3 linked regions of the Homo sapiens genome follow. The protein of the gene in region 1 purifies or fractionates together with the protein of each later gene. This does not show direct contact. Each region holds a gene or a part of one and is shown on either strand. Other genes may lie near its edges.

Region 1 (3,600 bases):
CCAGCCCTGCAGTGCTGCCTGTTCCTGCGGCTCCTCTCGGTGGGGGCGAACACAGCAGAAGAGTTTCTGCCACACTGCGGACCGCACCTGCTGCATTTCCCTGCGAAGCCAAATCTTTGCTGGGTAACAGGGAGGTGGGAAGCCGATCTGGAGAAGGGGTCGCGCTGGCGGGAGAAAGGGCAAGAAAGGGGTCTGCAGATCCTGTCTGGAGGCACCACAATAATAGCAACACGTCTCTCCCGGGGCTGGATCCCGCTGTGGGCCTGGGGTAGCTGCTATTGATTATCTCCTCCTTGCCTACTTCATTACGTTGGCAGGAGCCTCTCACCAGTGCCCCTCAACTTCTGCCCTCCCCCATCTCCCCGGCCCGGCAGCACCCAGCTGAGCTCTCCTGGAGGTTCTGGTTAGTAAGTCGGGCTCTGCCAAAGAATGTTTTCCTCGCGGGGCGGGGGCTGAGGCCCGGGGGCCCAACGAGGTGACGAGCTCGGTGGCGGCGGAGGGCAGCTTGTCGCCCCGGCCCCGGCCCCGGCCCCCGCCGGCCCCTTTAATTCGAGTTCGCCGTCGAGCCAGGTGCGGCGCTGCGTGGCGCGGTGCGGCTGCGGGCGGCGGCCGGGAGCTCCGTACGCGCCGCCCGCGGGACTGCAGAGCCGGCTCCCGGCTGGCCGCCCGCACCCCGCCGCCGCCCGCTGCCGGGGTTCTGCCGGCGCTGGCCGTAACCTAGGAACATGGAGGCCCCGGTGCCCATCCGGAAGGGTAAATCCGTGTCGGGGCGTTGCGCGGCGCGTGCTGCCTTCCCTGCCCGGCTGCGGCGCCCAGAGGGGCTGCGGGGCACCCGGCGGCGCAGCCTGCAGCGCAGCAGGCTTGGGCTGAGTCCGCGGCGGCAAGCCCTTGCCGACCACTGCCGTCTGCTCGGCAGGTCCCAGACCGGGGAGATCAAGGGGAACTTGCACCCTGCTCAAGAAGAGTGCACAGAATGGGCTCGGGACCCTCTGGGGTTTGCGTGGCGCGGGGCGGAGGGCACGGAGAGGAGCTGGTGGGTGGTGGGAAGTGCAGCTGGCAGCATAACCATGTCTGGTAAATAGCGCGGGTTGGTAGGACCTGAACCACTTGGGACGGCCGGGCTGCATTCGCCTCTTCGGCACAGAATAACAAACGGCTTTGCTGCAGAGAGGGCTTTCCCCTTCGCTGGGGCCGTGGGCTGCCGCCGAGCCCCCGCGCTTAAAAGGAAGCTGAGATCTGGGGCGGCAGCCTGGCGCAGGCTACTCCCCACCCCCAGAGATCAGGTTCCGGGATTTTGGGTTGGACACTGAGCCTCGGCGGTCCCTCGGCTGGACGCCGGGGGCTTAAGAGCTGAACTGCGCTTGGGCCCGCAGCAGGAGCCGACCGCGCGGGCAGGAGGGGGTTAAGGTGGCGCTAGCGGCCGCGGCCAGCGGGAGGGTCTGGTCCTCTGCGCGGAGGCGAGCGCTGAGTGCGCCGAACGGAATCCCGGCCGGAGCCCGGGGCGATGGGGAGAGGGCCCAGACCCCTCCCCGCCCTGGGGCCGGCGGGATTGGGTCGGCAGGGGGCCAGTCCGGAAGCCGGCTTCCTCCAGGCTCCCCCTCTCGCTGCTGCCAAGCCGCCTCGCAGCTAGGCAGGCGGAGCGTTTATTCTGTGCTCCCTGCCGAGGAGATGTGAGGGATTTTCTCTTGGGGGAGAAATCAGTGGTCGAGCGCCTGCCCAGCTCAAATGCCACCCGGCTCAGAGGGAGGCCTGCGGCCCAGGGATCCCGGAGGGAGAGTAAGTTCATCCAGTTTTCGTACAGTGCAGACTTTGTTGTGTGGGGTCTCCCTAGATGCGCTCTGAAGGAGTGTGTGTGCTGGGGGGTGGGGTGCTTCTTTTCCAGGACTGGCTGAGGTCAGAGCTTGTAGACAGGCTGCAGTGAGCTAAGCCCTCCTCTTGGGAGCTGCTGTGTCCTGACATGTGGGGGTAGGAGTGCTTCTTCCAGAGTCCTTCCTGAGAGCAGCTGGGGACTAGCAACCTGGATCAACCCAGGGAGGCCCCTGGAGAAGGCAGGCCCAGCCAAGCCTGAGTCTTGCTCCCTGGGAGAAAATGCTTCAAGCTGATGGGAAGCCTGCCCAGAAGAGGCAAGGAGGCTGAGGGATAGTCCTCAGGCCTGGCATCAGAATAGAGGATGGGCATGGGGGCCTGTTACCTCCCATGAGGGAAGCTGCCAGACCCTCCTAAATCTTGGCACCAGCTGGTTCAAATGCCCTGGTTCCACCTTGCTGCTGTTTTTTTCCAGGCAACGTCACACCTCCTGAGGACAGCCAGGACTCCAGCTTTTGCTGAGCTTTGCATCTTGCCTCCTTCCTTCAAAAGGCTCCAGGCCCATGCTCGGCTGTCTTCAAGTCCCGCATGCCCCTGGCCAGGCACCTCACCGCCCCTCCAGCCCAGCCCAATCCTAGAGCTCACCTCCAGGACCCAGAGTCTGCCCTTCTGCCCAGAATGACTCACCATTATTTCTAGCTCGAGTGAGAAGACGTGATGAGGAGTTGGGCTGCCTGTTGGTGCATCTCAGATTCCTGCAGCATCTGATCAGCTCTGCAAGGAAGAGAGCTTCACGTCTCTGGTCAGGTAAATCAATCTATCATTTAATAACAGCCTTGTGTAGAATCACTGGGGTGGAGGCCAATGAGAAAGACCCAGGCCCAAGCTCCCCAACCATGAATACCTCCCTGGGTATGAGTATCTGAGACATTAGTGCAGCACCTGGGAGAGGGTCCACTTTTAACCTATTAGCATGGGGTTATGCTCCATGAAGCCTGTGTGCTACAAGCGGGCCTGTACCAGCCACCTTCCCCCAATGCAGGGCATTCCAGAGGTTCCTGGAGAGATTGCTACCTGCTCCCCCTGATCCCCAGACAAGTTACAAGGTGAAAGTAAATTTTGCTTTGTCGTTGTGGTGGTGGTGATCATGTGTCTGAACTCTTGGCTGAGAGATGGGAGACAAAAAGTGGCAACCCAGGTCAGGCTGCCAATGCTGAGTAGCCTCATGTCAATAACTGCCTCTGTCTTTCAGCCAAGCGAGGCTGTCTCTCCAGCTCTCAGAGAGCTCTCGGGGCTCTCCTGCAGGAGACCAGGCCAATGCTCCTGTGCTTCCTGGGGCCAGTAGCAGCACCCTGAGCTCCCTGCCACCAGGCAGCTGAAAGGCATAGCGTGAGGTGCTTCTCTCAGTCCCAATTATGACAGTGGCCACCGGAGACCCAGCAGACGAGGCTGCTGCCCTCCCTGGGCACCCACAGGACACCTATGACCCAGAGGCAGACCACGAGTGCTGTGAGAGGGTGGTGATCAACATCTCAGGGCTGCGGTTTGAGACCCAGCTAAAGACCTTAGCCCAGTTTCCAGAGACCCTCTTAGGGGACCCAAAGAAACGAATGAGGTACTTTGACCCCCTCCGAAATGAGTACTTTTTCGATCGGAACCGCCCTAGCTTTGATGCCATTTTGTACTACTACCAGTCAGGGGGCCGATTGAGGCGACCTGTGAATGTGCCCTTAGATATATTCTCTGAAGAAATTCGGTTTTATGAGCTGGGAGAAGAAGCGATGGAGATGTTTC
Region 2 (3,819 bases), on another chromosome or scaffold:
ACCTAAATACACTGACATCAGGAACTTCCTCCAAAAAAGAGCAACCTAGGTCACCCTGTTGTGAAGTTCAAAATCAAAAGTGCAACTGCACACTGATAGCTTCCAATGAGCTTTTTGGTTCCCCAGAATTAACCATGAGCAGGGAGCCAAGGATTACTAAAAATATGAGGAAAGTCCCTGCTATGGTTTGAATGTGTCCCCCAAAGTTCACATGTTGGAAACTTAATCCCCAATGCAACAGTGTTGAAAGATGGAATCTTTAAGAGGGCTCTGCCCTCATGAATAGATTAATGCTGTTCTTGCAGGACTGGGTTAGTTATCGCAGGAGTGGACTCCTGATAAAAGGATGAGTTAGGCCCCTTTCCCCTCTCTCACTCTCTCCCTTCTGCCTTCCACCATGGGATGACACAGCAAGAAGGCCCTCACCAGATGCTAGCACCTTAATATTGAACTTCTCAGCCTCCAGAACTGTGAGAAATGAATTCAGTTTTTTAATAAATTTCCCAGTCTGTGGTATTGTGTTACAGTAACATTAAACAGACAAAACAGCCCCTAACATGAAATACAGCAACCAGGACAAAACAACAACAAAAGGAAGCAGGAGGAAAAAAGAGATGACGCACAAGAAGAAAACTTTTTTAAAAACACTGTAATATCCTCAGAGAGATAAGAGAAAAAGACTGCGTTAATAAAACAATCATTTTTAAAAGGGATACTCAGAGAAAAAACAAGAGCTTTTGGAAATTAAAAACAGGACAGCCAAGATTAAAAACAACAGAACTGCCAGGTGCAGTGGCTCATGCCTGTAATCCCAGCACTTTGGGAGGCCAAGGCAAGCAGATCACTTGAGCCCAAGAGTTTAAGACCAGCCTAAGCAACATGGCAAAACCCTGTCTCTACAAAAAAAATTATAACATTAGCCAGGTATGGTGGCACACACCTGCAGTCCCAGCTACTTAGAAGGCTGAGGTGGGAGAATCACCTGAGCCTGGGGAGGTCGAGGCTGCAGTGAGCCATGCACTCCAGCCTGGGTGATAGAGTGAGACCCTGTCACAAAACATAAATAAATAAATACATACATACGACAGAACTGTTAAAAGAAAATCTTCTAGAAAGTAGAGCAAAAAGAGGCCGGGCGTGGTGGCTCATGCCTGTAATCCTAGCACTTTGGGAGGCCGAGGCAGGTGGATCACGAGGTCAAGAGATCAAGACCATCCTGGCGAACACGGTGAAACCCCGGCTCTACTAAAAATACAAAAATTAGCTGGGGATGGTGGCGCGTGCCTGTAGTCCCAGCTACTCGGGGGGCTGAGGCAGGAGAATTGCTTAAACCCAGGAAGCAGAGGTTGCAGTGAGCCAAGATTGTGCCACTGCACTCCAGCCTGGCGATAGAGCAAGGCTCCATCTGAAAAAAAAAGGAAAAAGAAAAAAGAAAGTAGAGCAAAAAGATAGAAAGTAGGAGAGAAAGGCTGGGCACAGTGGCTCACGTGTGTAATCCCAGCACTTTGGGTGGCCGAGGCAGGCAGATCACAAGGTCAGGAGTTCGAGACCAGTCTGGCAAATATGGTGAAACCCCGTCTCTACTAAAAATACAAAAATTAGCCAGGCATGGTGGCGGGCACCTGTAATCCCAGCTACTCAGGAAGATGAGACAGGAGAATCGCTTGAACCCGGGAAGCAGAGGTTGCAGCGAGCCGAGATGGTGCCACTGCACTCCAGCCTGGGGGACAGAGCTAGACTCCGTCTCAAAAAAAAAAAAAAGAAAGAAAGAAAAAAGACAGTAGGAGGAAAAAAAAAAAAAAGAAAGAAAGAAAATTACCAGTTCAGGACCAGTTCAGAAAGTCCAAAAATCCAACAAGGGCTTCTGAAAGAATGAACAAGGGAATCTGATTAGACAAACTCCAGGCTGTAATTCAAGAAAAGTTCCCACACTGAAGGACTTGAGTTGTCATACTGAAAGGGCCCAACAAATACCCAGGCCTGAGAAACAGACCACACAAAGGCACACGAAAAGTAAATTTTAGAACACTGAAGACAAAAAAAGATTCTACAAATTGCCAGAAGAATAGGGAGAAAACAAGCCATATAGAAAAGATAAGACTTAGAAAAGCTTCAGGTATCTCAACAGGATAGAAAAAGAAAATGGAGAAATATATTCAAAAACTCTAAAGGAAAAAGTCTGGCTGGGTTTGCCAACCATCGCTTTGCTAATGGTGGAACAAACTGATGTTACAACATCTCCTATGATGTATTTCCCACAAGTATTTAATATGAATCTAATCAATCTAATAAACTTAAGGTCAATACCCTATCTATATAAAAAATATATATAGAGAGAGAGACCTAAATATACTTCCAACCAGGAACCCAATAGGGTTTTTTGGGGAAAGAAATTATGTTAAAGGTCCTGTGGACAATTTTTTTTTGAAAAAGAACACATAGGTTACCAGATAGTAAAGGTTACTATAAAATTATTATCATCAGCCAGGCACGGTGGCTCACGTCTGTAACCCCAGCACTTTGGGAGGCCAAGGAGGGCAGATCACCTAAGGTCAGGAGTTCGAGATCAGCCTGGACAACATGGTGAAACCCCATCTCTACTAATAATACAAAAATTAGCTGGACGTGGTGGCATACGCCCGTAGTCCCAGCTACTTGGGAGGCTGAGGCAGGAGAATCACTTGAATCCAGGAGGTGGAGGTTGCAGTGAGCTGATATTGCTACCACTGCACTCCAGCCTGGGCGACAAGAGTGAAACTCCATCTCAAAAAAAAAAAAAAAAAAAAAGATTATAATCAAAATAGTAGGGAATTGGAACAGAGACAAGGAAATTGTGAAACAAAAGAAAGATCAGAAATAAATCAAGATACATTTGGGAATTCAGTAAGATGAAGTGGTCTTTTTAATTTAGTGGATAAAAGATGTCTTCTTTAATAAATAGCACTGGCATAATTGACTATGCAGCCACAAGAAAATCCACCTAAAGCTATATAAAAATTTAATTCCACATGGGCTACAGATCTAAAATTTCCAAGAACTATATTCAAATAAACCATGCTACATTAAACACAAACTACTACCTCCTCATACATAAAAAATAAGACAATGAAAATGTTCAATGGTTTAGAAAAATCAGACTGTATTAATCAACTAAATAACAGAAATAATAAATTGAATTTATTGTAACAGAGTTGCAATAATGCAAAGAACACTGAACTAAGTTGGTGTCACTAACTGGCTGTGACTTTGGCCAAGGCATTTAATTTACCTGTGTAGAAGTTTCCTCACCTACAAAATTAAAATATTATCAACCTTGAAATTTGTTGTGAAGCTTAGATATAATTTATTATCTGGCTGAGTACTTGAAGCATAACAGGTGATCAGGTATGATAAATATTACTGAAAGTTTTAAGATGGAATAGCATTACCATAATCCTATAGCATCTTTCTTCCCTAGAGATTCTTAAGGTCCAAGAACAAAATTCTAATACCCACGCCCCACTAGTTAGATCAGTCAAGGGACACAGGAGCTCCCTGAACTCCAGACTCATAAATCAAAATCACGGCAGGTCTCAAACAAGATAAACAAAACCAAACTCCCCTAAACCTGATCATCCCACATTCTTCCACATCTCAGGAAATGGTTAACTCCATGCTTCTAGTTGCTCAAGCCAAAAACCTTGGACTTCTCATCTTCTCTCCTCTCACTCCTACATCTGATCCTTCAGAAGATCATGTTAGCTCCACCTTCCAAACAGGTGACAAGAGAATCCAGCTACTCTAACCAGCTCTCTACTGCTCCTGCCCTGGGCCAAGCGG
Region 3 (3,819 bases), on another chromosome or scaffold:
GTGAAACTTTTAAGGTGGTAGAATTATAGGATCTGATGACTGATTAGATGAAGCATGGAGAGGGCAACAGTGTGCACAGTGATGCCTTTTCTTCACAGGCATTATAGGAGGGACAGGTTGGTAGGAGGAGGCAACGGGTTTAGTTTTGGATTTACTGACCGGGGATGAGTGTTAGCTCTCTAGGTAGAGGTGTTCCGCAGGCAACTGGTGTTGCGGGACAAATCATAGACGGGAGAGACCGAGCAGAGTTCAGGAGAGCCTTTATTATTAAGGTGATCACCGGCTCAGTCGGACTAGGGTCCAGAAAGTCTGAGCCCCGAACAAAGGGATCAATCACCTTTTAAGCAGTTTGTGTTGGGAGTTACGTGTTGCATGAAGTGTACTTGCAGAAGCAAGAACAAAGGCAGTAAATTACTCTTACATTTGTTACACCATATGTCTTACGTCCTTGGGAATACATGCTTTTGTAACACTTGCTAATCAGTTTTGTGACTTTACAGCAGCGCTAGGGAGGGAAGCAAGAACTCGCTGTGCCTCAAGGAATGTGAAACGATGGAACACAGATAAGCCTCTCCACGCATAGGGGAGAAATAAGCAGTTAATATACTCTTAACCCAGGCCTTGGGTAGGGGAGGTGCTATATTACATTCTACCTCAAAGGAAAAGAATATACTTCTTGATTAGTATACTTATAAAATTCATTAATTTCCCTTTCACTGGATATTCCTACTAATTCCCCCAGGGCCTTGCAGTTTTGTCTCATTCGCTGCTCTATCCCCTAGCTTAGCACAAAACCTAGTTCTTAACATTGATTAAATAAATGAATCCGGTCAGGTGCTCCCGTGGGTGATCTGGAAGGAGTTAAATTTGGTAGTCATGGGAGACGCTTCTGTGAAGCCATAGGAGCGAAGATTGATTGTGGCGGCAGGACTGAACTCAGCTTCTGAATCTTTCTAGCCGCTAAACCTACAGACTAAGTGGCGTCCTTGGGGAATGCTGCCTCAAACGGCTCGCGACGTCCTAAAACATGTACATTTATTTTGGAAAATCTGTTTTCGTAAAACCTAGCATACTTAATCACCAACATTTGTTAACTTCATGGTGGCATATTAATACCTGTCAGGTTGATTTTAGTTGGAGTGGGACGGGGCTGACCTCACCGTCCTACCCTTCGGTATGAGGCCGGCGTCTTCACGACCTCGCTTTTCACAACCCCAGTCCCCGAGGGCTTATTTGGGGCTGTCGGAGTCCCCAAGACGTGGCCCCGGAGAAGGGTGAGGTGCCACAGTTCGAGGTGCCCCAGTACCCTGCGTCCGGACAGGGGGCGGTGCTCACGCCCAAGGCCCCGCTGACGCGATGTAGGCCGAGATCACCTCAGGCGCTCGCGGTGCAATCACAGAGCGCGCCGTCGCCGCTCGAGCTCGCCCTGAGATCCCTCCGCTCAGCGCCTTCAACGCCGTGTCCCGGCACCCCGCACCCGGGCACACAAAAAACGGGTCGCCCGCGATTCTCAGGGATTGATCGCCTCTTCAGGTAAGTTATCTTCCGGCCCCGTACCACTGTGCCACAGGCGCAGCCCGCTTCCTCAGGTGCCCTATCCCGCGCAAGAAGACCACGGCTTCACAGAGTGTTATTTAAGGGGCGTGGCCAGCGGAACATCCCGCCCCATTCTGTGACGCACGGGGTGGCGCGCGTGGGACCCGAGGGGTGGGGCTGGGTTTAGTAGGAGACCTGGGGCAAGGCCCCCTGTGGACGACCATCTGCCAGCTTCTCTCGTTCCGTCGATTGGGAGGAGCGGTGGCGACCTCGGCCTTCAGTGTTTCCGACGGAGTGAATGGCGGCGGCGGCTGGGATGCTGCTGCTGGGCTTGCTGCAGGCGGGTGGGTCGGTGCTGGGCCAGGCGATGGAGAAGGTGACAGGCGGCAACCTCTTGTCCATGCTGCTGATCGCCTGCGCCTTCACCCTCAGCCTGGTCTACCTGATCCGTCTGGCCGCCGGCCACCTGGTCCAGCTGCCCGCAGGGGTGGTACGTACATTCTTTAGGGTCTGAGTGGGGCGCGCGCCGCAGCTGAGGCGGCCGAAGGGCTGGCGTGGGCGGCTCCGTGGCCCCGACCGGCTCAGTGGATGGCAAGGGCGGGGGCGACTGCGGCCATGCTTGGCGTGGCTTTGGTGGCAGGCGCGCTGGGGGCTGGAGTAGTGGCTGCGGCGGCGGCACTGCTGCTGGTGGCGCTGGCTGTAGCACCCGCCATTGCCTTGTGTTGGGGGGCGGTGCTGGCCTCCCCGGCTGTGTATCTGATCCTAGACGGGGTCGTGGTTGCGGCATTTGTGGTTGTAGCGGTCTGTACTGACCGCAGCAGTGGTGCCCCTAGTGGCGGTGGCTGGATTGGCGGCTGTGGGTTTGAACGACCCGGTGGTCGTTGGGGCCCTTGGTGGGGGTCCTGACGGAGATGCTGTTGGCAGCTGGCCCGTCATCCTGGAGGCTGCCCTGTGTGGTTCAGTGTTCTGTGGGCTGTAGCAGTGCCCCTAATGGTGGTTTATACCCATATTAAGGAGGATGTGTAGAGTGTGGTAATGGTAGTGACTGGAGTGTGGTAAGGGCCTTCCTCTGATGCTAATAATGTAACAGTTTCTCGGCCGGGAGCAGTGGCTCACGCCTGTAATCCCAGCACTTCGGGAGGCCGAAGCGGGCGGATCACCTGAGGTCAGGAGTTCCAGACCAGCCTGAACAACATGGAGAAACCCCATCTCTACTAAAATACAACAAAACAAAACAAAAATTAGCTGGATGTGGTGGCACACGCCTGTAGTCCCAGCTGCTTGGGAAGCTGAGGCCCGAGAATCACTTGAACCTAGGAGGCGGAGGTTGCAGTAAACCGAGATTGCGCCACTGGACTCCAGTCTGGGCGACAGAATGAGACTCCGTCTCAAAAAAAAAAAAAATCATTTTCTTCAATTTAACAGCCTTATTAACCTAGCTTTCAATCTCCCAAATGTTATTTGATTGTGCCTTTTACAGTCAGCAATAAGTAGCTTTTGAAAACTACCCTTTTACTGACAATGCAATGTACAAACTTTTGACCAAGTAGCTTTTAAAATAATTTTTGTTTGAACCATACCAGGCATAAGAAAGAGTTATTTATTTATTTATTTTTTTCCTACACATGGGATCTTTAAGGAAATGATATTTGTCTCTGGGAAGACAAAGTTACTTTTAGTGTTTAAAGATAGTTCTATTAGCTGAGGTGTACTGTGAGGTTGTGGTGCTCCTTTCTATTTGAGACCACCAGAGAATTGAGGAGTATTACCCTTTTTCATTATTTTGTTTGATTTTCAGGATACTTAATGTTGTAATCTGCAGGTCTCATTTTGTGGCATCTAAAGAAACTTTTATGAAGAATGCTAGAGTTCTTGCTAGAGCTGATCTACTCTCTTAAAAACTCTAAAATCAGTGGCTCTAGTTCACTTGCAGTGAGAGAAGCATGAGATTGATTGTTTACTGAGAAGTAAATATAGCTTCTTAAACATTTCCCTTCTTTCTATACTACAAGTTACTGCTTGTCTTTTTCTATACCTTCTTTAAGCAAGTATCTGGGACTAAAATTGTGAGTAGTAGTAGTAGTAAGTAGTGAAGAAACAATATAGTGGGCCCTCTGGGGACACGAATTCCACATTTGGGAATTCAGCCAAGTGTAGATCTAAAATACCCAGGGGAAAAAAACCCAATACAAAATAACACAACAATAAAAAATAATACAAATAAAAAAACACAGTTTAATAACAGTTTATATAGCCTTTACATTGTATTGGGTATTGTAAGTA

Evidence for each region.
Region 2: the proteins of KCNA2 (region 1) and SARAF purify together in Homo sapiens (co-immunoprecipitation; 2 studies listed by BioGRID and IntAct, with this or other methods). This does not show direct contact.
Region 3: the proteins of KCNA2 (region 1) and CYP51A1 purify together in Homo sapiens (co-immunoprecipitation; 2 studies listed by BioGRID and IntAct, with this or other methods). This does not show direct contact.

The regions. Positions count from the first base shown.
Region 1 is NC_000001.11:110,604,404-110,608,003, reverse strand, and holds the start of KCNA2 (potassium voltage-gated channel subfamily A member 2), read left to right. Parts: upstream 1-1,645; 5' UTR 1,646-1,776; intron 1,777-2,281; 5' UTR 2,282-2,613; intron 2,614-3,058; 5' UTR 3,059-3,221; coding exon 3,222-3,600. UniProt on the Homo sapiens protein: Voltage-gated potassium channel that mediates transmembrane potassium transport in excitable membranes, primarily in the brain and the central nervous system, but also in the cardiovascular system.
Region 2 is NC_000008.11:30,076,393-30,080,211, forward strand, and holds part of SARAF (store-operated calcium entry-associated regulatory factor isoform 1 precursor), read right to left. Parts: intron 1-3,819. UniProt on the Homo sapiens protein: Negative regulator of store-operated Ca(2+) entry (SOCE) involved in protecting cells from Ca(2+) overfilling.
Region 3 is NC_000007.14:92,132,380-92,136,198, reverse strand, and holds the start of CYP51A1 (lanosterol 14-alpha demethylase), read left to right. Parts: upstream 1-1,721; 5' UTR 1,722-1,834; coding exon 1,835-2,026; intron 2,027-3,819. UniProt on the Homo sapiens protein: Sterol 14alpha-demethylase that plays a critical role in the cholesterol biosynthesis pathway, being cholesterol the major sterol component in mammalian membranes as well as a precursor for bile acid and steroid hormone synthesis.